Homo sapiens: one gene and its partners. The protein of the gene in region 3 interacts with the protein of the main gene of each other region in a biochemical or structural test. Each region holds a gene or a part of one and is shown on either strand. Other genes may lie near its edges.

Region 1 (7,028 bases), on a different chromosome or scaffold from region 3:
TCACTAAACCATATTCCCTCCACTGGACAAGAGGAGCTGGAGAAATGGGAAAGCACACACTTCGCAGCCCAAAGAATAAGCCATTTGTAACAAGCAATGTTACAGAATTGAGCATCCTGCCCAGTAGTGTAGAAATAAAGGAACAGAAATTCAAATCAATAATATCAGCATGGCCAGCACGGTGGCTCAGGCTTGTAATCCCAGCACTTTGGGAGGCCAGGGCAGGAGGATCACCTGGGGTCAGGAGTTTGAGACCAGCCTGGCCAACATGGTGAAATCCCATCTCTACTAAAAATATAAAAGTTAGGCTGGGCGCGGTGACTCACACCTATAATCTCAGCTCTTTGGGAGGCCAAGGCAGGCAGATCACGAGGTGGGGAGTTTGAGAGCATTCCGACCAACATGGTGAAACCCCCATCTCTACTAAAAATACAAAAATTAGCTGGGCGTGGTGGTGCGCACCTATAATCCCAGCTACTCAGGAGGCTGAGGCGGGAGAATCACTTGAACCCAGGAAGCAGAGATTGCAGTGACCCGAGATCATGCCACTGCACTCCAGCCTAGGCAACAGAGCAAGACTGCCTCAAAAAACAAACAAACAAACAAAAAACTGAAAGAAGAAAAAACAATATCAGCATGCTTTAAGGAAGCTAGGCAAAGCAGAATATTGCCACTGCTGATGAGTATTTTGTTTTCACATCTAAGAGGAGGAGTTTTTATGCATAGAAAAGACTGAGATTTACTCTAGTTTTAAAATATTAATACTTAATTTATTAAAGTTACAAATTCAAAAAGCCTAGATTTTACTCAAATTTTTACACCGAACTTAGACAACTTATTCTACTTGGAGGTCTAATTTTAAAGGCCTGTGATGAATGTCTAAACTCATTTCAAAGTTCACCTTCAACATAACATCTTCAAACATAAAATGTTAACTACTTAAAAAATTTTACCAAGACTACACTTTCAGGGATCATTTCTACAGTTTGTTACTGGAGAAGTTTCTCTGAAAGTGTAGAGTACCAAACACTTTTTTTAAATTAAAAAAAAAAAAAATTTATCAAGTGAGAACTATTGCAACCCCCCCACCAAACCCCAACAATATATTCAATTTTAAGTATAATTGCTAGACTTAAAAAGACAAAATTTTTGTATTTTAACATGTGTCAAGAAAAAAAAATTTCCTGAGAATAACTTACATACCTAAAAAATTAAACTTATAGTGACTCTTAGGTACTCTCTAATGTCCACAAAATAAAATAACTGCAATAAGGTTTCAATTTAAATTCACAAGTATAAATCAATATTCAGTCAATTATACATTTTAAATTGAAATCATAAGACTAATATAAGTGCCGGGCATGGTGGCTCACACCTGTAATCCCAGCACTTTGGGAGGTCAAGGTGGGAGGATGGCTTGAGCTCAAGAGTTCAAGACTAGCCTGGGCAACATGACGAAACCTCATCTCTACAAAAAATACAAAAGTTAGCCAGGCGTGGTGGCGCATGCCTATAGTCCCAGCTACTTGGGAGGCTGAGGTGGGAGGATCGCTTGAGCCTGGGAAGTCAAGGATGCAGTGAGCAGTGTTCATGCCACTGCACTCCAGCCTGGGTGACAGAGTGAGACCCTGTCTGGAAAAAAAAAAAAAAAGACCAATATATTACTCTAAATTCTAATATTAAAAACACTTACTCACGCCTGTAATCCCAGCAATTTGGGCAGTCAAGGCAGGAGGCTTGCTTGAGTCCAGGAGTTTGAGACCAGCCCGGGATACATGGCAAAACCCTGTCTCTACAGAAAAACAGAAAAACTGGCCAGGTGTGGTGGCATGTACTTGTAGTCCCAGCTACTTGGGAGGTTGGGGTGGGAGGATCACTTGAATCCGGGAGGTCGAGGCTGCGGTGAGCCAAGATCATGCCCCTGTACTCCAGCCTGGGCAACAGAGTGAAAGCCTGCCTCAAAAAAATTAATTAAATTTAAAAAAGAAAAAAAACCACTTTAAATATCAAACATAGGTCACTACCACATCAACTCCTTGTTCTGAAAACTGGTAATTGAAAATAATGAATTAAGCTTTTAGCATTTAACATGGCTTTCTGGGAAGACTAACAGTCAATATGGGAAAGCTATTCTTTTTTGTTGTTGTTTCTGAGACAGGGTCTCACTTTGTAGCCCAGGCTAGAGTGCGGTGCTGTGATCACGGCTCACTGTAGCTTCGACTTCCTGGGCTCCAGTGACCTCCTACCTCAGCCTCCCAAGTAGCTGGGACTACAGGCACGCAGCAGCACACCAACTAAGTTTTTTCAATCTTTTCGTAGAGACAGGCTCTCATGTTGCCCAGGCTGCTCTTGAACTCCTGGGCTCAAGCGATCTGCCTACCTTGGCCTCCCAAAGTGCTGGGATTACAGGCATGAGTCACTGTACCCAGCCCAGGAGAGCTACTCTTTAAAGAAGAATATTCACTAACAAAGGTAGAAACTACAATAGAACTAGGTAAAAATCATTTTGTAACCCTCAATAATACAACTGATTGAGGAAAGAATCAACAACAGTGGATATTTACGAAATGCCAATTACTCCATAAATTACCTCTAACTGAAAATGGAAAAAGATGTTCCTGTCAGCACCTCAAATTGATCAAATTTAGCATCACTAATACTGGATAACCTGACATTATGTACTTTATACAGAAAATAAAGTATATAACATCACCTACAAAGTTTCTCAAAAATATGTTGAACCTATATCTAATCAAGCCTGTAGAAATAAGTTAGAGTTTAAGAAAATACAGGAGATAAAGCTGGGTGCAGTGGCTTACACCTGTAATCCCAGCACTTTGAGAGACCAAGCTGGGAGGATTCCTTCAGCCCAAGAGTTTGAGACCAGCCTGGGCAATATATTGGGACCCTGTGCCTACAAATAAATTTTTAAAATATAGCCATAGCTGGGACTACAGGCACATGCCACCACACCCAGCTAACTTTCTGTATTTTTTGTAGAGACAGGGTTTTACCATGGTGCCCAGGCTGGACTTGAACTCCTAGGTTCAAGCAATCCACCCACCTCGGCCTCCCAAAGTGCTAGGATTTATAGGTATGAACCACCATGCCTGGCGGGAAATTGGCTTTTTTTTTTTTTTTTTGGTGACAGGGTCTCACTCAGTCACCCAGGTTGGAGTGCAGTGGTGTTTATCTTGGCTCACTGCAACCTCTGCCTCCCAGGCTCAAATGATCCTCCCACCTCACCCTCCCTTGTAGGTGGGACTACAGGCATGCGCCACCACTAATTTTTTACATTTTTGGTAGAGACAGGGTTTCACCATGTTACCTACGCTGGTCTCTAACTCCTGAACTCAACTGATCCTCCCACCTCAGACTCCCAAAGTGCTGGGATTACAGGCGTGAGGCGCCATGCCTGGCTGGCAGGAAATTTTTAATATATTAAAACATGAATTGTCTAAACTATGACAATGGCATCATGGTTACATAGGTGAATGTCCCTATTTTTAAGAAACGCATGTTGAAATATTTAGAGATGAAGTGTTATGATGTTTATAACCTATTTTGAAATGATTCAACATTAAAAGTCATAGCTAGAGCCAGGTGTGTTGGCTCACATCGGCACTTTGGGAGGCCGAGGCGGGCAGATCACTTAAGCTCAGGAGTTCAAGACCAGCCGGGCCAACATGGTCAAACCACGTCTCTACTAAAAATACAAAAGTTAGCTGGGCATGGCCAGGCACAGTGGCTCACGTCTGTTAATCCCAGCACTTTGGGAGGTCGAGGTGGGTGGATCATGAGGTCAGAAGATCGAGACCATCCTGGCTAACACAGTGAAACCCCGTCTCTACTAAAAATACAAAAAATTAGCCAGGCATGGTGGCACACACCTGTAGTCCCAGCTACACAGGAGGCTGAGGCAGGAGAATCACTTGAACCCAGGAGACAGAGGTTGCACTGAGCCGAGATTGCACCACTGCACTCCAGCCTGGGCAACAGAGTGAGATTCCATCTCAAAAAAAAAAAAAAAAAAAAGCTGGCTGTGGTAGCGTGTGCCTGCAAGCCCAGCTACTCGGGAGGCTGAGGCAAGAGAATCGCTTGAACTCGGGAGATGGAGGTTGCAATGAGCAAAGATCGTACCACTGCAGTCCAGCCTGGGCAACAGAGTGAGACTCCATCTCAAAAAAAAAAAAAAAAGTCATAGCTAGTGATAGAGGAAGCAAATATGGTAAAATATAACAATTGCTGAATGAACTAGGGGGTAGATATATAGATATTCATTTTATTTTTTAAATTTTTTAGGTGTTTGAAATCATTCATAATAAAAAGTTGAAAAAATACCAAATAAGTCTGGGCGCGGTGGCTCATGCCTGTAATCCCAGCACTTTGGGAGGCCGAGGCGGGCGGATCATGAGGTCAGGAGTTAGAGACCAGCCTGGCCAACATGGTGAAACCCCTTCTCTACTAAAAATACAAAAAAACTAGCCGGGCATGGTGGCATGCACCTGTAGTCCTAGCCACTTGGGAGGCTGAGGCAGGAGAATGGTGTGAACCCGGGAGGCGGAGCTTGCAGTGAGCCAAGATCGCACCACTGCACTCCAGCCTGGGCAACAGAGCGAGACTCTGTCTCAAAAAAAAAAAAATTATCTGGATACAGTAGTACACACCCGTAGTCCTAACTACTCAAGAGGCTAAGGCAAGAGGATTGCTTAAGCCCAGGAGTTCATGGCTGCAGTGAGCTATGATGGTGCCACTGCACACCAACATGGGTGAAAGAGTGAGACCCTGTCTCAAAACAAAACAAAACAAAAAAACCAAAAAACTCAGAGCCTGAGATTATATCATTTAACCTGTTACCATACCTGTGAGGTAGATACTTTCATCGTTCTCATTCTACACGCAGGAAAGCTGAAGCTTAAAAAAAAGACTTCTTGAAATTTGCCCAATTTCCCACAAATACCAAGTAGTACAGCTAGGATGAACCTAAACTATCTGATTTCAAAGCCCCTACTCTTATCATTCCTTACCTGGATCAGTTAAATATAAATCAGATCACACCATCATGCCCTTATTGAAAACTTCCACTCTCTTCCCATTAGTTAAAATGAATTCAAACTCCCTCCATGGCCTGTAACGCCCAACATACACCAACTCCTGATACAACTGTGACTTTATCTCTTGCCATGCTGCCTTTGCTCCCTATGCTATAAATTATGTGTATTGGCTTTTTTGTTTTCTGTTTGAGACAGGGTCGCACTGTCACCCAGGCTACAGTACAGTGGCACAATTATAGCTCACTGCAACCTTCAACTCCTGGGCTCAAGCCATCCTCTCATCTCAGACTCTGGAGTAGCTAGGACTTCAGGGTCACGCCACCATGCCTAGCTAATTTTTTTTTATTTTTTACGGAGACAAGTCTGGCTATGTCGCCTAGGCTGGTCTTGAACTCCTGGCCTCAAGCGATTCTCCCACCTCAGCCTCCCACAGGTGTGAGCATCTATGCCCAGCCTTAAATTATGTGTTGAGTGTCTCTTGTCAGATATTGTTCTAGGGACTAGAGCTAGAACACAACTAACACAGACAAAAGTCTCTATCTTCGGGGAGCTTGTATTCAAGGGGTCTGCTTGATGTTCTTTAGACATTTTCCAAGCAAGGGTTCTGTACATTTGCATATTTGTTGCTCCTCTTACCTGGATCATTCTTCCCAACACAGCTGGCTCTTTATCCTTAGGGTTTCTGTCTAAATGTCAACTCTAAGAAAGCCCTTCTCTAATCTATCTGAAAAACAAGGCTTTCAGTCATCCTCTATTCTTTTTTTTCTTTTTCTTTTTTTTTTTTTTTGAGATGGTGTTTTGCTCTTGTTGCCCAGGCTGGAGGGCAATGGCACGATCTTGGCTCACTGCAACCTCTGCCACCTGGGTTCAAGTGATTCTCTTGCTTCAGCCTCCCGAGTAGCTGGGAATACAGGCGTCTGCCACCACGACCAGCTAATTTTTGTATTTTTAGTCAAGACAGGGTTTCAACATGTTGGCCAGCCTGGTCTCAAACTCCTGTCCTCAGGTGATCCACTCACCTCGGCCTCCCAAAGTCCTGGGATTACAGGTGGGAGCCACAGGCACCCGCCAGCAGGCCCTGCTAATTTTTTTGTATTTTTAGTAGAGACGGGGTATCACTGTGTTAGCCAGGATGGTCTCGATCTCTTGACCTCGTGATCTGCCACCTCGGCCTCCCAAAGTGCTGGGATTACAGGCGTGAGCCACCACGTCCGGCCTTTTATTTTATTTTTTTGAGAGAGGGTCTCATCCTGTTGCCTGGACAGTGGCGTGATCAAAGCTCACTGCAGCCTTGAACTCCTAGGTACAAGCAATCCTCCCACCTCAGCCTCCCTAGGAGCTGAGACTATAGGCACACACCATGATATCTGGCTTTTTATTTTTTAGAGTCAGGGTTTCACTTATGCTGCCCAGGCTGGTCTCAAACTCCTGGCCTCAGGCAATCCTCCCACTTCAGCCACCCAAAGTGCTAGGATTACAGGTGTGAGCAACTGCAGACAGCCTCTCTTACTCATTTTTTTCTTCTGAGTATTATTTTTTTTTTTGAGATGGAATCTCACTCTGTCACCCAGCCTGGAGTGCAGTGGTGCGATCTCGGGTTGCTGCAACCTCTGCCTCCCAGGTTCAAGCAATTCTCCTGCCTCAGCCTCCCAGCTAGCTGGGATTACAGGTGTGCGCCAGCATGCCTGGCTAATTTTTGTATTTTTAGTAGATGGGGTTTCACCATGTTGGTCAGGCTGGTTTTGAACTCCTGACCTCAGGTGATCCACCCCCCTCAGCCTCCCAAAATGCTGGGATTACAGGTGTGAGCCACTGCACTTGGCCTTCTTCAGAGTATCTATCACAACTTGAAATCATCTTATTTTTCATTTTATTTACATGCTTATCTGTCCTTCATAGTAAATAAGCTCCAGAACAGAGACTTTGTTTTGTTCCTGCCCAGTTCCTAAAGTAGTACCTGGCAAAACAGGCCAT
Region 2 (7,028 bases), on a different chromosome or scaffold from region 3:
CCACTGCACCCAGCTTCAGCATTAAGTTTGAAATTCTTTTTAGGTATATAGATTATGAAGCCATGGTTAAGATACGGTTTTAATCTAAATTAAATTCACTTTAATAATGTAAAAATAAATTTCTTGATGGAGAAATAGTTCCATTTAAAGATAGCCATCATCACTTAAAGATGTTTTCAGCATAGTCAAGATCCACTATAATACAAAAGTGATTAAAATACTTTGAACATACAGCTCCACTGCAGCTAAAAGTTGTAATACGTCTCCTCCATTCATGTAATAGAGATAGAAGAGAAGGTCTTCACCATATCGGCCAAGTTTTATTGCAGCCAGCTGAAAAAGAAAAATAACTTATTCTGAAATATAAAACAAATCTGCAAATCCTAATATATAGTTGCTACTACTAAAGAAAAAATGGAGAGATAAACAGAAACTCCCCACTTTGTAGTAGATAACTGTTATTACATGATTACACAGATAGGTAGTTAAGATTCTAAAAGGGAATTTCCTCATTTAAATGACTGAAGTCATTTAAACAATTATTTCTGATACATCTAATTGATATGCTGACTGGAAGAAAAGCTCAATAAAGACTTCCAAGCAAGATCCACTAAAAGGATTTAATACCCAATGGGGAAAAGAACCTAACAATAGCATTGTGCTCAGAGATCTAGGACTTGTATTCAAGTCCTGGTTTTATTACTCATTAATATGACTGTGTCCTAGTTATTTAAAATCTCTTAGCTTTACTTGTCAAATGTGGACAATGACACCTATGAGGGTTACTAAGAAAGTAAATAAAATGAGTGAAGGTATATGAAAGCACCTTGTAGAGTGCCAAATATATAGACGGCTTATAAAAAATGTTAAACTGAATCTATATCTGACAGTGAATGATTCACAAGTCAGTTGTATGCTTTCAGCAAATCACAGATGATGAATACAAAAATCATAAAGAAATGGCTTTTCAGTTTGTTTAAATAGATGTCTGAAAGATGATTGCTTTACATTTCTCTCCCCAAGGTAGAAACATAACTGCTTACCAAACTGTAAAACATAGGTTCAATAGTCTCAAATTTTCACATTTAAATAAACCTTAAAAGTGTCCCAAAACAACATTTTTATCTCGTTATTTGATCCTATATCGAAATACTTATTTGGTTATTACACATTCTCTGAATGTAATTTTTCTCTCCATTCATGTTATCCCTATTCAGGCAGCAGCCCCAATGTGACAAATTCTCCTAAATTAGTATTTCTCAAATTGGTAATAAGAAAAGGTTCTGGAACACTTTGGTAATTGGAGCGAAAGAGCTCTACAGTGGTGGTGGGAGCAAATCACACAATCCGCAAATAGAAAATAGGAGACCTCTCCATCTTGTATTTCTTGCCTTTTATCTACTCAAGTATTAGAAGACATTGAGAAAGGTATCCCTTTACTTGCCTGTCCACATCAACATCCACTTGACCACAGAACTGTAAGGCACACTCAGAATGCTGTTGTATATATACACATACACATAGATATTTATACACAAATATATAACAAAAATATATTTTTTCACTAAATTGTAGTTTCCCAAGGCTAAAATTTAGGTACCATTGTGAATATTTTTTGGTAATAGAAACAAACTCTCAGTTCTTCTAAAGCAAAAAGTGCCACCATTTTCTTTCTTAGATTGAAAAAAGAGAGATTAAGCTGTAATCTGTTGTTAATAACTACTTTAGAATTAGAATTTTAGGTGATTTAAAAAAATGGAAATGAAAAAATACAGAGAAAAGTCAAAGGTCATAAATAGTTTTTAAAGATACAGACCATCTCATTAAAAACACTGTATCTGTAATACTTGTAACGAAAATCTTTTTACTGGTAAGGTCATAAAATAAGATTATCAGAAGGATATTTATCAAATGTTCCAATCTAGTTTATTCTCATCAACTGCGGTTATGGTTGTAACCTGTTGTTAAATGTAAGAATTTTTATTTTTTACCAGTCCTAACATTTACCATTTAACAAGTTAACATGGACATATGAAAGCATATCCCTGAGACCATTACTAATTATTTCAAAAATAGTATGCTGCCTGAACTGAAAAACATGTGAAAAATAGATAAATTCATGCTGACTGAGTAGAATAATAAACTACACTCACCTTATCCCTAATGTGAATGTTCGTTAAGTACTCAGATGGAACATGGAAGTCTGGATAATAAAATGAAAAAAGCCTTATTAACTGATTCTCAATTGTAAATTTCTTTTTAAAAGGTCTAAACACAAATAGATTCTCCTACCTATGTCTTGAGGTCGACAAGGTGAAGATGCCCAGGGTGACGCAAATTTGGGGTAGAGATTTCTGAATAAGGAGGAAAAGAAAACATTTTGAAATCCAGAAAAAGAGATTTCTAATTTTATTTCAGGAAAAACAAAGACTCCAACTGTAAAATGACCATCTTTACTTCTAATTCCCTTACTTGGGTTTACTGACTTATACAGAAGCAAATGAAGACTGTGTGTGTTTGTGTGTGTGTCTGTAAAATATGATAGGACTCCTTCCCTCAGTATTCTTGCAATACAGTATAAATAACACAACATATCACAATATACAAAACATGATTAAAAATTTTCTACTTTTACTTGATTTCAACTCAAGATGCTTTAAATTCTTCAATACCATGCTCCCAATATAAATTAAATTTTAAATAAATTTTAAATAAATTTCCCATTTATTTGTGTGGCAAGAAGAAAACTGAGTAACTATTTGCAAAAGTTTAAATTCATCAAATATTTACTGAGTGCCTATTATATGCCTGGCACTGTTCTAGGAGCTTACGACACATCAGTGAGCAAAACAAGATCACTGACAACATGAAACTTACTTTCTGGTTGAGGATGGTGGATTGGAGGGGGACAGACAAAATCAATTAACAGAATAAATAAATAAACAATGGCCCATGTTAGAGGGGAACTGGGAGGGGAGACTGGATGCATAATTATTAAATAGGGTGGTCAGTTAGGTTTCATTAAGGTGGTCAGATCTGAAGATTTGAAGGCTATAAGGGACATAGTCATATTAATTATCTGGCAGAAGACTCTTCTAGTCTGAGGGAACTCCTAGAGCAACTAAGGCAGGGACATGACTGACATGCCTGAGATATAACAAGGTGGCCAGTGAAGCTGGAATACAGTGAACAAAGGGAAAAGCTGTTGAGGTGGGGTTAGGGGACAAACAATAATCATGTAAGACCTTGCAGGCCTGTGAAGATTTGGGGTTTCTGGTCAAGCGCGGTGGCTCACACCTATAATTCCAATACTCTGGAAGGCCAAGGTGGGCAGACCACTTGAAAAGTGAGGAGTTAAGAGACCAGCCTGGCCAACATGGTGAAATCCCGTCTCTACTAAAAATACAAAAATTAGCTGGGCATGGTGGCACATGCCTGCAATCCCAGCTACTCAGGAGAATCGCTTGGACCTGGGAGGTGGAGGTTGTAATGACCCGAGATTGCATCACTGCACTCCAGCCTGGGCGACAAGAGCAATACTCTGTCTCAAAAAAAAAAAAAAAAAAAAAAAGATTTGGGGTTTTTAATCATAATGAAACCACAAACATTTACTGGGTGTTGAGCAGAGGAGTAATGTATTAAAAAAGGATTGTCTTGGCTGTTATATGAAGAGATTGTACGGGAAGGGGTATAAGGACAATCAGGGACCCCCAGTGACTGGCTAATGGAGTATTCAGGCAAGAGAGAATGATTCAAACAAGGGTGGTAGCAGTTAAAAGTAGTGAGCTTTGGTTAGATTCTGTATATATTTTGGGAAAAGCCTGATTATGGGGTATAAAAGAAAGAGGAGTTAAGAATAATGCCAAGTTTCTGGAAGTACAGAGTTACCACTAACTGAGATTGGAAAGGCTGTAGACAGAATAAGTTGGGGGGTGATCATTCAAGAAATATTTAATTGGCAATTGAATGTAGAAATCTCAAACTCAGAAGTGTGGAATGGAAACATATGTTTGGGATTCCTCAATATATATGGTATTTAAAACAATAAGACTAGAAAAAGATCATCAAGGATGTAAATGCAGAGAAGAGGAATGACACTGAGGTCAAGAAGAAAAGGAGGAGGTACCAGCAAAGGAAACTGAAAAAGACCAACCAGTGAAGATGAGGTAAAAATGGTGCTCTCAAATTCAAGTACAAGAATGTGTATCAAGGAGCAAGAGTTCCTCCAAGTGACCACTGAATTTAATAACATGAAGGTCATTTGGTGACCTTGATAAAAGCAGCTTTAGTGAAGTGGCAGGGACAAAATCCTGACTGAAATGGGCTTACCAGAGAATGGGAGAAGACCAAGTCGGAGAAATGGAGATGACTCTTTGAAAAGTTTCGCTTCAAAGGGAAATAAAGAAATGGGAAAGTAACTTACGGAGGAGGTTGGATCAAAGGAAGATTTTCTTCTAAGATGAGAGAAGTAACAATGTATTTCTATGTTGATGAAAATGACCCAACAAAGTGTGAAAATGTGTTGTAAGTAGAACGCATGGGTCAATTATGGTAATAGGGTGGAAAACAAGAATAACATAGGTGTAGGTGGCTGTAGGTAGTCAGATTTGTTGGCTAGACTGTGCTAAATGTGCTCTTCTAATTGCTTCCATCTTTCTTAGTACAGTAAAAGTGAAAAGCAAGATCATCATTTGATAGTAAGAATAAGGAGAAAAGGTATTAGGGGCATGCAGAAGTGTACGATAGTTGCATAAGAGAGCAAAAGAGTAAATGGACTAAGCATGCAAGGTATAATTATCACTGGTAGAATTAAGAGCCTACTTTTGAGGCTCCTGGGCATGAAAATAAAGGAAGACCAGGCAGTGATATCATGTGTTTTTCTCTAGCAGAGCTCAGTAGCACAGGTCAGGAATGAAATAGGCAGAAACAATCAGTACTGTAGCTTTGGCCATGCAAGTATAACAACATGAGAAAATGGCAAGTAGTCATGGGATATGTAAATGAACAATTATGACTGACCACAGAATTTCATGGGTAAGAAGGGAGTTGATCACAGGGGAAAAGAGACGGGGATCTGGAAGAACAGTTAAAATACCGAAGAATCAATAGATTGAAGGTCCCAATGGAGTGAAATGATTACAGGAATCACAGTACTAGAAGAAGAGAAATAGAAAATAGAAAGTGGAAGTCGGAAAGCATGCGAGCTCAGATTTTAAAATTGAGAGACTGCAGTTACGAACAATGACTAGGTCAAAGGGATAACTAAAGGAGTGGCTGAAGTATACTACAGGACAAAAATTCCTGGAGGAAAGAAATTCAAGGAGCTGAGATTTCAGGATTCTGGAAGGTGTGTGTGTGTGTGTGTGTGTATATATATATATATACACACACACATATATACATGCACATGCACACACACACACACACACACACACACACACACACATAAAATGCCAAATTATAAAAGGAATACTGCAGAGTGACAGTGATCTAAGAGCTAACATGAATGGGAATGACCCAGAGAATCAGCAGGTTAACAATGAGTAGCAGTAGGTGAGATAATTTGATGACATGATATTAAAAACTGGAAGTCTGAAGAGGTATTATATACAGACATGGAAAAACAGAAAAAACTTACTCAGGAGAGTTCAGATTGAGGCCTAATGTTGTTAAGTCACTTCCTAATGCAAGATGTACCATTCCTGGGTCTGTCTCTGCTGCCCTGATAAATGTTAACAGGCCAATCATTCCAAATTGGTCCGTCACCATCCCTTGAGGAATGTTAGTAACCCGACCTGGGTAGGAAAAACACAGTTGCTTTTATTTTCAAGAAAAAGTTAAAAAATAGAAAAAAAAGCATTCTATAATATCTTTGACATAGATTTCTAGAGTCCCACCATCAGGTAACACCTGGATCCCTTTTTTCTGCTGGTTATTATTTTGTGTTGTTGAACTTTTATCTCCAGGGAATTTGGGTCCATCTGTACTTGAAGTTGTCTTGCCAGATGTATTCAAATTCTAGCATGAAAAAAATTAAATGTGACATTAAAATTTGTTAAGTATACAAATTCAAGTTCACATATTAATACCTTGCTATTTATTCTTTATTACATTTAAATTGGTAGTTAAATTATTACCTGTTTTTCAAGTTCTATAGAAAATTGTTTCCATCATTGTTCCATGGTATACAAATAAATCCTATATCATCCACATTTGAGTATTTAAAGAAAAAGAAATCAAGGGAAAATATCTTATTTATCTCAGATCTTCAGTCACAGAAAAAAAAAAATCTATCTCTTTCTCAGGTCTTTATGCTTTGGGATACACTTGAAGTTACACTCCTCAATGCTTTCATGTAAAAGAGAAACTAAATATAGTATATTACCTAAAATCACCAAAGCTACCTTGAAGATAAGTTAGACATACAAGCTTTAAAACTTTGTACTTATTTTAATTCTTACCGATCTTCTTTATCAATTATTTTAATAATATATAAACTCCCATCACACACAGAGAAAAGCTATTTTCAGTGAAATGTGGAAGAAATAAACATATTTGTTAAGTCAGAAAGAAGAAGCTGAGTTGGTTGAATCAACACAGGTATAAAAATGTGTATAAATTCTTCAAGGAGAAAACTTACTCAAGAAAAACACAGCTCCTTAGAAGGCTATATTATCAAACTTCATGGGATCCAGCTGACAGGGACTACAATAAAAGTCTAAATTAACTCTGAGAAGTTCAACAGAAATTTGCAAACCTATATGAAATAGGAAAAAAATAGGCTATCTTCTAAGTTATAAAGCTTTTCCACATTCTTCAGAAGTTAGGTTATTACAGATATCAAGATAAAACAGTTTTGTAATAGTATTTAGTAAGTAATTGTTAATATAAGAGAAATCTGAAGGGAAAAACTACATCACTCACATACACACTTCTCAGTTACTTACAGATTTACTGTCATCATTACTTGATGTTGGATCTTTATAGCTGGAGCCTGGTAATGCTGGAAAATCTTCATTGTGTATTGA
Region 3 (7,028 bases):
CTTCAGTCGTAAATTCTCCCTCACCAGACCACCATTTTCCAATTTCAATTTTTTATTTGCCTAAAATAACAAATTGAAAATAAGTAAGCAAAAGCTACAATAAAAGTGACTTGTAAAAATTACAACATGAGCCATCCGTATTTTTTAGAGTGATAATATCAGAAAACTGAATAGTAGAACATGGCCTTCAGAAACTTAAAATCACTACTGGGAATGACTTCAGAAACTGAATACTACTGAGCATTTTAAAACCATATTCCCCAAGCACTTTGCAAATCTCCTGTCCAGGGAAATAAACAAAACTATGTTAGTTAGCTTAGAGTCATTAAGGGACCATACTAATGGCAAATGTATGTGTGATTTTTTTTCTTTTTCACATAACTGAATATTCTAGGCAAGGTAACATTATACCACATGCAATATCGGCAAACTAATGCTGAAGAGTTAATTCTTGAGCTTTGAAATTGATTTCTGGGGTGCTGTTTAAAAATTTTTTTCTAGTGATAACAAATCTAATATGATTTAACCACTTGATTTTTTCTCTTCAAAAAGGCTTTTCCAACGTTCTGGCTCACAACTTCTAGGGCCCTCAAAATTGGATCTATCTATCTATCTATCTATGTATCTATTTATCTATATTTTTTGAAAGAGTCTTGCTCAGTTGCCCAGGCTGGAGTGTAGTGGTGTGATCTTGGCTCACTGCAACCTCCACCTCCAGGGTTCAGGTGATTCTCCTGTCTCAGCCTCCCGAAGAGCTGGGACTACAGGCATGTGCCACCATGCCCAGCTAATTTTTGTATTTTAAGTAGAGACAGGGTTTTGCCACAGTGGCCAGGCTGGTCTTGAACTTTTGGCCTCAAGTGATCCACCTGCCCCAGCCTCACAAAGTGTTAGGATTACAGGTATGAGCCACTTGCCAGGCCTGGATCAGTATTTTCTAATAAATTCTATGAATTGTTCTTCGATTAAAAAAAAAATCCTTCCAAGTATGATTTTCTTTCTTGAATTGTATAACACCTAAAAATTACCTAACAGGACACCAATTGCTAGAAAATCTAGAGGCTCAACACTGATTCTGGACACACTGAAAACTAGTGTGCTTAAATTTTAGAGTCTTCTTAGAAGCTACTTCCTTTAAATTCCCTACTCATTGCTTTTATGTATTACAAAGAAAAATAACACTCCCTAGACTAGAAACCAACCTCACTAACCTGGGAAAGGGAAATTCTTTGACCAGAACATTTACATTTAAAGTGAATGGGTCACAAGAATAACTGTCACCAAAAAAGGTTTAAACCAAGAAGCCTTTAAAACGTATTTCAAAAATTTGGCTATTACTTAGATGAATTTCAAGAACTTCTGACTGTATTACTTACTTACCCACATAAGCTGCAGCACAAGGATCACAGAAGAAATAAGGTAGAGAACATTATTTGGGGGCATAAAGTCTAACTCCCTGACTTAGACCCATCCAGGTTCCCTCTGGGCTCTAGGCACCTGCTTATCTTCATGAATGCACACCAACCAGGACTGTGGAGAGTTAATTCTTTAAGTGACTGATAAACACCATTACTGCTTCTCTGAAGATATAAGGAAAGCCATTTACTTCCTCATATATGCAGACAATGAATTAAGCTCTCAAGCACAGCACCATAAGGGGAGGCATTTAGTGAATGCTTTTTGATGATGATGACAAGCTTAAATTAGAAACTCATTTGATTTCCTTTCCCCTTCCCTGCCCCCCACCACTACTGTATGGCTATGTTTCAGTCTCTCAACAGTCCTTTGACTCTCTAATACTTCTCATTATAGGCTGGCTAGTTCCTCAACTATCAGAGATCTTTTCAAGTTCAAGAAGGTTAGGTGAATAAAAGTTATGAAGGGCAGAGTTCTGCCTACCTTTTGCACCTAAAAGAATAATGAATATTTCAGCTAACCCTTCTGCATTCTCAACACTGATTGGGTAATGACACTGGCCTCACGATGGTTCAAAACTCACCCATTCCAGGTAACATCAGAAAAAAAGTCCACTTCATTCATGCTAAGTAATCCTTTATTCTGAATCTTTTGTATTCCTGTATTTGATTATGTTGAGTATGTTATTACTCCACACTTTAGTTTTTATCTCTGCAGTCCATGTTTTTTCATTCACTTATGTCCCAGTTTATAACCTATTACCTACTAGCATCACTAGGCATAGAAAATGGGCTTATTCAATATCCCAAAGAATTCTGAAGTCCCAGGGTAGCTTTGAGTATTGAATTTAACATTTGACCATTAAAAGAGCAAAGGAAAATTAACTGTGCTTTATGTATTCTTCTTTAATATCCATCCCTCATATCACCCTTATAAGCCTCATGTTCTAAGAAATATTTACTGCCAAAACTTTAAACGAAGTTTAATAACTACAAAGGAGATCATATAGTGCTTACCAATGGCTCAAGAAGAACCAGGGAAATTAAAGGGAACAAGGCAAATTGATAAATACTGTAATTTCCGAGTTGGCATTCCTTTTAGTATCCTATTGTCTTCTAACAAATCAAGGTACTAACACTGGTCATCAATACCCAAAGAAACTATGCACTTCTCCCTCCTACACACTTATAACAAACTCAGTACAATTATGTCTGTAGTTTCTTTTTTATCTAAAAGCACTAGGCTCTCTCTTCTCCTCACCCTGGCCTTTTCTGAGCCCAAACAACATTTATTTTATATGTGGAAGATGGCTTACATCTAAGTTGCAAGTATTTCTCTGCTACTTAACCTGAGGACCTGAGAGCCAATATACAGGGGAACTCCTTTAAAATACCATATGGAGCTCATTAATAATTTTGAGAGATAAGATTTAGTAATTTCACACAGGAATAGTATTTTAAGGAAATGCAAATAGTTGAATATGTGATTGTAGAACTGAGTACTACAAAGCCATCTCCTTTCAGCACAAGAGGACTCCACTGTGGATAAACTTGAACTCAAGCTAAAGGCTGATCACTTGGGTCAAGATGGTGTTGTAGGAGTTGCCTGTAACATCTAGTGCTGATGGCATGGATCTTATCTCCCTTTCTAGGCCGAAAAATCCTAGAGGTTTGCCTTTTTCACCATGCTGTATCTCGTTCAAAGAAAAACTGAAAAAAATGAACCAGTTTCATAAATCACAACATTCTTTTGCATGAGGTACTCTGAAGCAGCTGCTTATTGCTGTCCTGGAATTAGTCACCAAGTCTTTATCTATCTACAATCTTAAAAATAAGAGAGTGGTAGCAAAAGAAAAGATAAGGTCAAAACTTTTCCTTTCATTGGTGCGAAAATGGTTATGTGTTTGTTTTTAGGTACACAGGGGAAGTCGCTGATATAAGCTTAAAAAACCTATGGCAAACCACAAAGAGGACGAAACAGAAACACATCCTTTAAATTGGTATTATTCTTCTAGAAGAAGATGCAATCTTATACAGAAGCACAACAGTCTCTAATTATAGTCACACATGGAACCACCTGATATTTCTTGGCAGTTAATGATATTTAAATAAGAAAAAGTCTTCTTATTGCATATAAATGCTCATCCAGAGATTCTGTCCTTTCCTCACAAATCATCTGATGATGAGTCAAGATAATATGGCTATTTATGCTTTTGAAGGTACTTATTTTAAAAACAACCATAATAGATTTTTAAAAACCACAACTTACCTCCTTTAGCTTATCCACATCATCTTTCACTTTTTCATAGATTTCATTAGCTGTTCTGAGTTTTTTCTTCCACTCTGCTACAGTTTCTGGGTTAATTTTACTTGGATTATCTGTGACTAGATGTTTGTCTTCATTTTGGTTGCCCTGCACCAAGGTTAAAGGATCCAGAATAGTTTTGATCTGTGACTCCAAGCTGAGATTTTTACTCTTAAGCTCTTCTACTTCTTTCTGTAAACAATCTATTTCGTCCTGAAAAAGCATTGCATAGTCATGAGGCAGGCATAGACACTAAACACATACATACATATGCTAAACTGAAGCCAACATGGTTTGAATTTTGTACTTAAAATTCTGTAGATACATAGATTCTTTACATATCAAAAGAGTTTTGCAGGGAGAAAGTCACATACAGTTTAAATTCTCAAAATGTGGCCTGACTGATAAAAATTGGGATTTATGTTGCCTTCATTTTAATTCAATGTTAGTTGTGATTTTTAAAAATGCCAAATCTTTGATTCTATTTAAGATATCATCCAGGTGGAGAAATAGGAACACTTTTACACTGTTGGTGGGACTGTAAACTAGTTCAACCATCGTGGAAGTCAGTGTGGCGATTCCTCAGGGATCTAGAACTAGGAATACCATTTGACCCAGCCATCCCATTACTGGGTATATACCCAAAGGACTATAAATCATGCTGCTATAAAGACACATGCACACGTATGTTTATTGCGGCATTATTCACAATAGCAAAGACTTGGAACCAACCCAAATGTCCAACAATGATAGACTGGATTAAGAAAATGTGGCACATATACACCATGGAATACTATGCAGCCATAAAAAATGATGAGTTCATGTCCTTTGTAGGGACATGGATGAAATTGGAAATCAACATTCTCAGTAAACTATCGCAAGAACAAAAAACCAAACACCGCATATTCTCATTCATAGGTGGGAATTGAACAATGAGATCACATGGACACAGGAAGGGGAATATCACACTCTGGGGACTGTTGTGGGGTGGGGGGAGGGGGGAGGGATAGCACTGGGAGATATACCTAATGCTAGATGACGAGTTAGTGGGTGCAGCGCACCAGCATGGCACATGTATACATAGGTAACTAACCTGCACAATGTGCACATGTACCCTAAAACTTAAAGTATAATTAAAAACAAAAACAAAAACAAAAACAAAACAAAACAAACAAACAAAAAAAAGATATCATCCAGAAAATAAGAAAAGTCACATGAATTCCAACAGGGAAGTAGATTCCATTTCAAAAAAGAACAAAAAAACAAAAAACTTGAGGCATACTCAACTGCTTTACTGAGGGGAATTTGAAAGTACATTGAGGGGGGCCGGGTTAAAAAAAAAAAAGGTACAGTTTGTCCCCACCTCATCCCCACATCTACAGGGGATTGGTTCTAGGACCCTTAGGGATACCAAAATCCATGGATGTTCAAGTTCCTGATGGAAAATCACTAGTGCTGTATTTGCATATAACCTACATACATCTTTCCATACATTTTAAGTCATCTCTAGATTATTTATAATAACCAATACAAAGTAAATGTCATACAAATAGTTATTAAACTACATTATTTTTATATATATTTATTTTTTTAATTTTCAATCTTGGTTGTTTGAATCCACAGATGATGAATCCTTGGATATGGTGGGCTGACTGTACAGAGTTATCAAGATGATCGTGCCTGTAATCCCAGCACTTCGGGAGGCCAAGGCAGGTGGGCCAGCTGAGGTCAGGAGTTCAAGACTAGCCTGGCCAACATGATGAAACCTCGCCTCTACTAAAAATACAAAAAATTAGCTGAGTGTGGTGGCAGGCACCGGCAGTCCCAGCTACTTGAGAGGCTGAGGCAGGAGAATTGCTTGAACCCAGGAGGCGGAGGTTGCAGTGAGCCGAGATCATGCCATCTGCACTCCAGCCTGGGTGACAGAATGAGATTCTGTCTCAAAAAAGAAAAAGAGGATTGTTAGGGTTTTGATATTTATACTTTCACTTCTATATTTGAAGTATGAGTGAAACCATCTACCATTTCCTTCTACTTTTCATTCCAGAATAATATCTGTAGTTAATTTTGAATTTTCAACTTTTCTGGATTCTGGTTCTTCAATTACTACTGTGACTATTGCAAGTATTAGCCTTCCCACTCTGGAAATGTTTATTATCCTAAAACCAGTCACTAAACATTTGGGTTAGAACTTCTTACTATGATGCCATTTATTCATCTATAATAAATATGTCACCTTAAATTGAGGTTGTTAAAAATTCTGCTAGAAAATAAACCCCCAAGTAGCTCAAGTGATCTCCCAAAGGATTAATTTGTTTACCATCTGAGTATGATAAATATTCATTATATAAAAATACATTTTAGCATTAAATGTCACACAGATAGTACTACTTACTATTTTAAATTGCAATACATTTCAACTTAAATAGCATTTTCATAAAACAAGCAAATTCATATATGTAAGGAACACATATATGAATAAACATATATTCAATCATGTATTTATACCCCACTGCATTCCAAAAATTTTTGAGGCAGTTGAGGCACCTTCCATGTACACAGTTAAACTGAAAGATATTTTGAGTCAAGAGGGGATCGATATCTCCTTCTTCAGTCAACATAAAATGACAACTGGGCTTAATGTGTACTATTCAAAAGTGTATGTATTCTATTAGCATGAATTTATTTGTAAAAATAGCATCACCATGTCCAATCATCCTGTTCATTCACCTTTAGACAATAATTAGGAAACAGCATGTTTCACACTAAAATCTCTGTGCTGGCAGTTGACATAAGGTATAGTATTTACTTTACTAGAATTGATCAGGCTTATAATCATCAGTAACTTCATAGGCAGAAGCAACTGATGACTGCAGAGGTCAGACTGGCTTTCACAAGGAGATTTCCTTTTTCTCCCAACTTCTTGAGGAAGCAAATACAAAATGATATGTCTGTGGAGGTACAAATTTTAACTTAAAAAAAAAAAAAAAAGAAAGAAATGCTTCCATCTGTTCCTTTTTTCTGGAATCCCATTCCCCCATTCCTTGGTACTTAAAGAAAAAAAATAAAACAAAAAATCTCTTTCCTCTATTTAAAATACGAAAGGAAAAAAGAAAAAAGAATTTATCAAACAATTTCTTTTTATAGGCTTTTAAAATAAAATTTCATTGGATATTTACTCTAAGAAGTCTGGGGACTGAGGTAGGTCAGTTTTTACCTTGAATTCACTGCTAACATAATTTTAAACTTTGATTACTGTTTACCTCATATTCTTTGTGTAGTAATTCAAGTCTAGTTTTCCGAAGATG
Region 4 (7,028 bases), on a different chromosome or scaffold from region 3:
TCCTTTGTATTTAGAGAACTTTTTCTAGTGGTTCCCTTTGGGTAGATCTGCTGGCAGCAGATTCTGTTAGTTTTTTGTCCTCTGAGATTGTCTTTATTTCTCCTTCATTCCTGAAGGATGTTTTCACTGGATATAAGAATCTGGGTTTGACAGTTCTTTCGACACCTGAAAAATATTTTGCTGCTTCCTTCTGGCTTCCATGGCTTATCATGACAAATCTTTCGTCATTCCAATTTGTTTTTCTCCTGCAGGTAAGGTGTCATTTTTCTCCGGCTGCTTTCAAGATGTTTTTTCTTTGTCTTTAGTTTTCAGAAGTTTAATTATGATGTGTCTTGCTGTGGATTCCTTTGGGTTTTTCTTGTGTAGGGGTTCACTGTGCTTCTTGAATCTGTTGGTTTATATTTATTGCCATATTGTGAGAATCTTCAGCCATTATTGCTTTGAGTACTTTTTCAGCCCTGTCCTCCGTGTCCTCAGCGTCCAAGGCTCTGATGACATGAATGTTAGATCTTTTGTTATAGTCCCACAAGCCCCAGAGACTTTGTTCTTTTTGTTGTTGTTGGTGGTGGTGGTGGTGTTGGTCTGTGTTCTTATCTATCTATCAATCAATCAGTCAATCAAGAGACGAGGTCTCGGGCTGGAGTGCAGTGGCACGATCTTGGCTCACTGCAGCCTTGACCTCCCAGGCTCAAGCAGCTCTCCTACCTCAGCCTCCCAAGTAGCTGGGACCACAGGCATGTGCCACCATGCCTGGCTAGTTTTGTTTGTTTGTTTGTAGAGACGAGATTTTGCCATGTTAACAAAGCTGGTCTCGAACTCCTGGCCTCAAGTGATCCTCCTGCTTCAGCCTCCAAAGTGCTGGGATTATAGGCATGAGCCACTGTGCCTAGCCTTCATTTATTTTATTTTTCAGTTCTAATATTCCCATTTGGTTTTAAATGTTTTATTTGCCTGAACTTTGTTTCTTTGCTCAGTCTTCCTGTTTTCTTGTGTGTTTTGTGTGTGTGTGTGTGTGTGTGTGTGTGTGTGTGTGTTTTCAAGCATGTTTTTAATTTCTCATTGAAGCATTTTTGTCATGATTCCTTTGTCTTGGTTGGGTAATTCTGTTTCTGTCATCTCAGGGTTGGAAGTTGTGTTTATCTTTTTGCATTTGATATCTTCGTGTCTTGGTGTGATGAGCTATTTTCATTTGAAACTGGACTCACTCATGTTATGAAACTCTAGATCTTGTTTAAACCCTTTAGTTTGGTTTTCTTTGCCTAGCACTGCTGTGACAAGGGAACCAGGCACTGTCTCCTTACTGCCAGTGGAGGTAGAAGTTCAGGTTCCACTTGGCCTTCGCTGACACCTGGGAGTGGGGGCTCCTCGTTGCTTCTGGTGGAGGTGGTAGTTTTGGCTCTTCACGCGGCCTCCACAGGCACCGCACTGGCGTGTCCTCTTTATTGCAGGGAGATGGTGAAAGTCTTGACTCTCCTTGGCCTCCTCTGACACCACCTCAGAGGGAGGAAGGGAGCTCCATATCGCCTCCTTTCTTTCTCTTGCAGCAGAAGTCTACCAGCCTCTCCACTTGCTCATGCTGGCATGGGTAGAGATGGGACCACGTTTTTTTCTTTAGTGTTAAGCTTGAGTACAGTGGTTCTTATCTAAAACTTTTGTCCTTTTAGGCAGCCCTTCCCTGGTCCTTTGGCTTTTGTTGGGATTCTTTTGGGTCTGTACCCATTGGTATTTCCATGTTACTGGCTTCTTAGCTGCATGTCTGGCATATCTGAGGCAAAAAGTGAACCCAGGGAACTCATCCCTGTGCCGTTCGTCAGGTCCTGCAGTCTTTGGCTATTCTGCCTTCTCTCCTTTTTTCAGAGTTTTGTGTTTGCTTTACACATAATATACAGTGCTTTTAGTTGTACCTAGTGGGAAGAATAGGGAAAAGTGTTTTTACTCCATCTACCCTAAAGTAACTTCTCATTTACTTTTTTGTTCTTTCTCAGGACTCAGTATAGTTTTAATTCCAGAATTTTATTGTTATTGACTTTATTCATATATATTGTTTTCTGTTTCCAAGTAGTGAAGAGCAGATTAATTTTCAATTTAAAAGAAGTCCTGGCCGGGCGCGGTGGCTCACACCTGTAATCCCAGCACTTTGGGAGGCCGAGTCGGGTGGATCACGAGGTCAGGAGATTGAGACCATCTTGGCTAATGCGGTGAAACCCTGTCTCTACTAAAAATACAAAAAATTAGCCGGGCATGGTGGCAGCTGCCTGTAGTCCCAGCTACCTGGGAGGCTGAGGCAGGAGAATGGCGTGAACCCGGGAGGCGGAGCTTGCGGTGAGCCGAGATGGTGCCACTGCACTCCAGCCTGGGCAACAGAGCGAGACTCCATCTCAAAAAAAAAATAAGAAAAAGAAAACAGCATCACTGTAGGTCTGGTTAGAATGAGCTGTTTACCTGATACCGAGAAGTTTTCAGTTGACTTCATTTTCTCAAGATGTGTTTCACAAAGGGTCCTGATAAGCTTCAGGTTGTAACTGCTTATCTCACGGGATTGTGACTCAGTGAAAACATGAAAAGGCTGTGGTGGGTATAAAGAACCACACACACGTGAGAGAATGGTACTCTTGTAATTGCCTTCCTGCAAATACCTACTTTGCACTTAGAGCAGCACATTTTTCTTTTTATAATTCTTAGAATCCTAGAATCTTAAAACCGAAAGATCTTAAAGATAAATGAACTTTGCCATTTTTCCCATCCATGCAACTCAGCTTCTTTGAAGGATACTCCACTGCCTCACAGCACAGGGTGTCTCAAATAGTTAACAGTGTTTGCCAACCTCTTCTATTCGGCCTTGGCCTTTCCTGTTAAATTTTTTTTTTTTTTTTTGAGACAGAGTCTCGCTCTGTTGCCCAGGCTGGAGTGCAGTGGCGCGATCTTGGCTCACTGCAAGCTCTGCCTCCCAGGTTCACGCCATTCTCCTGCCTCAGCCTCCTGAGTAGCTGGACTACAGGCGCCCGCCACCACGCCTGGCTGTTTTTTTTTGTTTGTTTTTGCTTTTTTTTTCTTTTATATTTTTAGTAGAGACGAGGTTTCACCGTGTTAGCCAGGATGGTCTCGATCTCCTAACCTCGTGATCCGCCCGCCTCGGCCTCCCAAAGTGCTGGGATTACAGGCATGTCTTCCTTCTGCTCTTTGAGTCCAGTCTTTTATGAGAGAATAGGAAAAAACACTTCCTTTAGGTTTTGATCATTCTTATCTACCATATCCTTTAGTTTTTCTTCATTTGGTATGGTTAACATCTTTGACCATTTTATCTGCCTTCTTCAAACTGCAGAATTTGTCTGGTTTTCTTAAAATGGCGCTGTGGCATCCAGAATAATACACAATGCTTGTGTAGGATGGATAGGAACTTTGCTCCATGAAACCCTGCGCTGCACTGTTGTTATTTGTACTTTTATTTCTCATGTACATAAGAAACCCTTCTGAGAGGATTTGAGATTCTTGTAGGTATATGTAAATCATTGTTTTTGCTCTCATTTTGGAACAAAGCAGTTATTGAATTTACAGATGGCTCATGGCCCTGGGATTTTTTCCCCCTCCTTAGTGAGTTAATTCTTAAGCCAAGTCAGCCCCATTTTGTTGCTTTGTTCAGTATGACTTTAAAAAATCTAAGTGCAAGTGTATATTTGTCATTAGGGTGTTTTGTTGTTAGCTTTGTGACATTGTAGAGTTTTGATTCTCTGATGCATTACGCTGGCTTTCATCCTTCCCTTCACTGTTTCCTCTGCCCACCCACTCTCCCAGTCACCTGCCTGCCCCGTTCGTGTTTTGCTCACTCTTGTTTGTTATAACCATCTGTATTATTGAAAGTGTTGGCAAGGCAGGGTCAGATATAGAGCACTGCTAGTGCATTTCTGATTGACATCAGCCCATTAACATTATGTTTTGAATGTGTATATAGAACATGGTATGAATCATTTTTACTTATATCAGAAACTGAAAAAACAATATTTTCTATAGTCTGACATCTTACTAGTAACTATAACATAGTTATGGATGATCTGATAATTTTGATACATTTTAAAATTTTGAAACATTTTATTACTTAGTTTCATTTTACTTATTTCAAAAATATTTCCAGGAAATCCCCTTACCCAGGATATATTGAACCTTTATCAGGAACCAGATGGAACAAGACGGCTGCTGAACTATTTGCTTGATAATTTGTCAGGTACTGCAAAAAGAAGTAAGTGGTTATTTGTTTAAACCTTTTTATTAGGAAGACGTGTAAGAATATTGCTTAATTCTGTATTTTCTATTCAACTAGTTACAACAGAACAACCACCTCCAAGGTCTTGGATTATGTTACAAGAACCAGATAGGACAAGGCCAACTGGTTGGTAGTCTTTTATTTTTTAACTGTTATTTTTGCTCAGTCTCTATAAGCCTAACAGTATTGTCAGCATGCTTAGATTACAGGTAGCATTAAGACAAAATGTTTAAGGTTGGTTTGGTTTGGGAGGTAATAAAAAAGAATTCTTGCTCACATGACCTCTATGTATACTACATTGTGCTATATAGAAAGTGTGCTATAAAGCAGTGCTTCTCAAACGGGCAGTTTATCCCCCAGAGGACATTTGGCAATGTCTGGAGACAATTTTGATGGTCGTAACTGGGGAGAAGTGCTGCTGGCGTCTGGTGGATGGAGGCCAGGGTTGCTGCTCAGCATTCTATAGTACACGGCACAGGCCCCCACAACAGACTTCACCTGAAATGTCAGTAGTGCGACTCTGGTTGAGAAACCCTTCTGTAGTGTACTGATGAAATTCACTTAAAATGAATACACCCAAATTTTTCTCTATGAGAAGTTTCCAAATCCTAGCATGTTCCAAATGGATTTGACACTACCGAGTTATAAGAGAGCCAAACCCTTACTTAGAGGAAAGTGGAACTAATGACTGCTCATCTCCTTTTAACCTAAATTCTATGTAAATAGTTTGGGAGCTTTCATGGTGCGTGTAACAAAATTTGGTCTGTGATACCGTTTTCATTTTGCATGAATTAACAATAGTTGTGCTGTAGAAGAAAATGAGGCATGCCTATTAAGGATACTACCTATCCAGTTTCCACATCTTACATTAACAGTTGGTAGCATGGTAGAAGGAGTATAGAAATGAGGAATGTTAGGCTCAGAGACTGAAGGGCTCACGAGCTTAGACTTTTCACTTCCAGACCTTCTGTGCCTACCTCTGTAGCAGGTAGTACATTGTATTCTAACTTGTTCACTTATCTATCCTGCTTGCATTATCCGTCTTTTATTTATCCCCCATATGTGGCGTACAGTAGCTTTTCAGTGACTATAGATTGAATGAATACGGTCAAACTTAACATTTAAGTGAAAACCATTACTGAAATTAATTATATATTTTTTTCTGCCACATGTGTGAATAAGTAAAGTTATCTTTCCTACAGCCTTGTTTTCTGTCATGTGCTATAATGTTCTTTGTGATAAATATGCGACCCGGCAGTTATACGGCTACTGTCCATCATGGGCGCTAAACTGGGACTACAGGAAAAAGGCCATTATTCAAGAAATCTTGAGCTGCAATGCTGATATCGTAAGTCTTCAGGTAAGTCAGACAGAAGACAGTCAACCTAGCATTGATAAAGGAAGGAGCAACTAGGAATACATTACGCTGACACATTTGAAGTTTTAGCTTCAGTAGTTCTTAAAGTACTGCTTTTTTCTGTTATTAGTGAATCCTGGGAGTACTGCCTGCTTTGCTTTGCAGTGCTATGTTGCAAAATAGGCAAATGTGTTAAGCTGGGATTTATGCGTTTGCCATGACCGCTAAATACTCACCTTCCTCCTCCCTCCAGCGTCCCTGCACTATTTTTGAATTGGGTGGCAAAGTTACTGAAATTCTAGCGTGGTCAAGCTATAACTTGCATTGCCGACCATGTTGCTAGAACAATTAAGGCACCGTGTAAAAAGGACTGACTTGGTACACGAACATTTTGGGTTCTCAGTGCAACTCTCATAGTCACTCATATGATCTTGAACATGTTACTTTCTGCCCAAGGGTCTGAAGTTATGATTTGTAAAGTTCGTCGACCTCTGTGGTTCTTGTTCCACCTCAGTTCTAAGACATAAGGAAATACACATGCATAGAAGTGTGTCTTTCACTCACTGTTCTTAAACAACAATGAGTTGCCCTTGGTACCTAGTACCTGTAAAATGACAAGTCGCTGTTCCAGTTGGTTTCAGATAAATAGTGTTGAAAAGATGTTACTTTTTTTTTTTTTTTTTTTTTTTTTTTGGGTGGTGGGGAGACAGGCTCTTTCTCTGTCCCCCAGGCTGGAATGCAGTGGCATGATCTCAGCTCACTGCAACCTCCGCCTCCTGGGTTCAAGTGATTCTCAGCCTCCGTAGTAGCTGGGATTACAGGCATGCACCACCATGCCTGGCTAATTTTTGTATTTTTAGTAGAGATGGGGTTTCGCCATGTTGGCCAGGCTTGGTCTGGAACTCCTGGGCTCTAGTGATCCGCCCGCCTCGGCCTCTCAAAGTGCTGGGGTTACAGACATGAGCCACCATGCCCGGCCCGGAAAGATGTTACATTCTTTAATCTGCAGACCAGTCCTTTGAAATTATTTCAAGCTCTCAAACTATACATAGAAGTTAATATGCAGACTAATTTTTGTCTTATGAAATAACTGTGCTGTTTACAACTTTTCAGGAGGTTGAAACGGAACAGTATTACAGTTTTTTTCTGGTAGAGCTGAAAGAACGTGGCTATAATGGATTCTTCAGTCCTAAGTCTAGAGCTAGGACAATGTCAGAACAAGAAAGGAAACATGTTGATGGCTGTGCAATATTCTTCAAGACAGAAAAGTAAGTCATCTTATTTTTTAAAAAGAACGTTTTCTCAGTATTTGCAGGGTGGGGGCCAAGGGTGTGGAAACTAATTGGCAAATGAGAGAATGAGGCACTATATTATTACTGAAGCAAAGAATACTGTTTGACCTAGGGGGTTTTT

What was found.
Region 1: the proteins of OBI1 (region 3) and CNOT10 form a complex in vitro, tested with the Homo sapiens proteins (one study listed by BioGRID).
Region 2: the proteins of OBI1 (region 3) and CNOT2 form a complex in vitro, tested with the Homo sapiens proteins (one study listed by BioGRID).
Region 4: the proteins of OBI1 (region 3) and CNOT6 form a complex in vitro, tested with the Homo sapiens proteins (one study listed by BioGRID).

The regions. Positions count from the first base shown.
Region 1 is NC_000003.12:32,688,167-32,695,194, reverse strand, and holds part of CNOT10 (CCR4-NOT transcription complex subunit 10), read right to left. Parts: intron 1,032-7,028; exon of another isoform or gene 955-1,031; intron 1-954. UniProt on the Homo sapiens protein: Component of the CCR4-NOT complex which is one of the major cellular mRNA deadenylases and is linked to various cellular processes including bulk mRNA degradation, miRNA-mediated repression, translational repression during translational initiation and general transcription regulation.
Region 2 is NC_000012.12:70,337,433-70,344,460, reverse strand, and holds part of CNOT2 (CCR4-NOT transcription complex subunit 2), read right to left. Parts: coding exon 6,948-7,028; intron 6,706-6,947; coding exon of another isoform or gene 6,676-6,705; exon of another isoform or gene 6,042-6,675; intron 6,019-6,041; coding exon 5,898-6,018; intron 5,796-5,897; coding exon 5,639-5,795; intron 2,355-5,638; coding exon 2,293-2,354; intron 2,204-2,292; coding exon 2,154-2,203; intron 351-2,153; coding exon of another isoform or gene 334-350; coding exon 233-333; intron 1-232. UniProt on the Homo sapiens protein: Component of the CCR4-NOT complex which is one of the major cellular mRNA deadenylases and is linked to various cellular processes including bulk mRNA degradation, miRNA-mediated repression, translational repression during translational initiation and general transcription regulation.
Region 3 is NC_000013.11:78,635,139-78,642,166, forward strand, and holds part of OBI1 (ORC ubiquitin ligase 1), read right to left. Parts: coding exon 6,984-7,028; intron 3,934-6,983; coding exon 3,685-3,933; intron 61-3,684; coding exon 1-60. UniProt on the Homo sapiens protein: E3 ubiquitin ligase essential for DNA replication origin activation during S phase.
Region 4 is NC_000005.10:180,560,360-180,567,387, forward strand, and holds part of CNOT6 (CCR4-NOT transcription complex subunit 6), read left to right. Parts: intron 1-4,129; coding exon 4,130-4,234; intron 4,235-4,315; coding exon 4,316-4,384; intron 4,385-5,460; coding exon 5,461-5,618; intron 5,619-6,728; coding exon 6,729-6,883; intron 6,884-7,028. UniProt on the Homo sapiens protein: Poly(A) nuclease with 3'-5' RNase activity.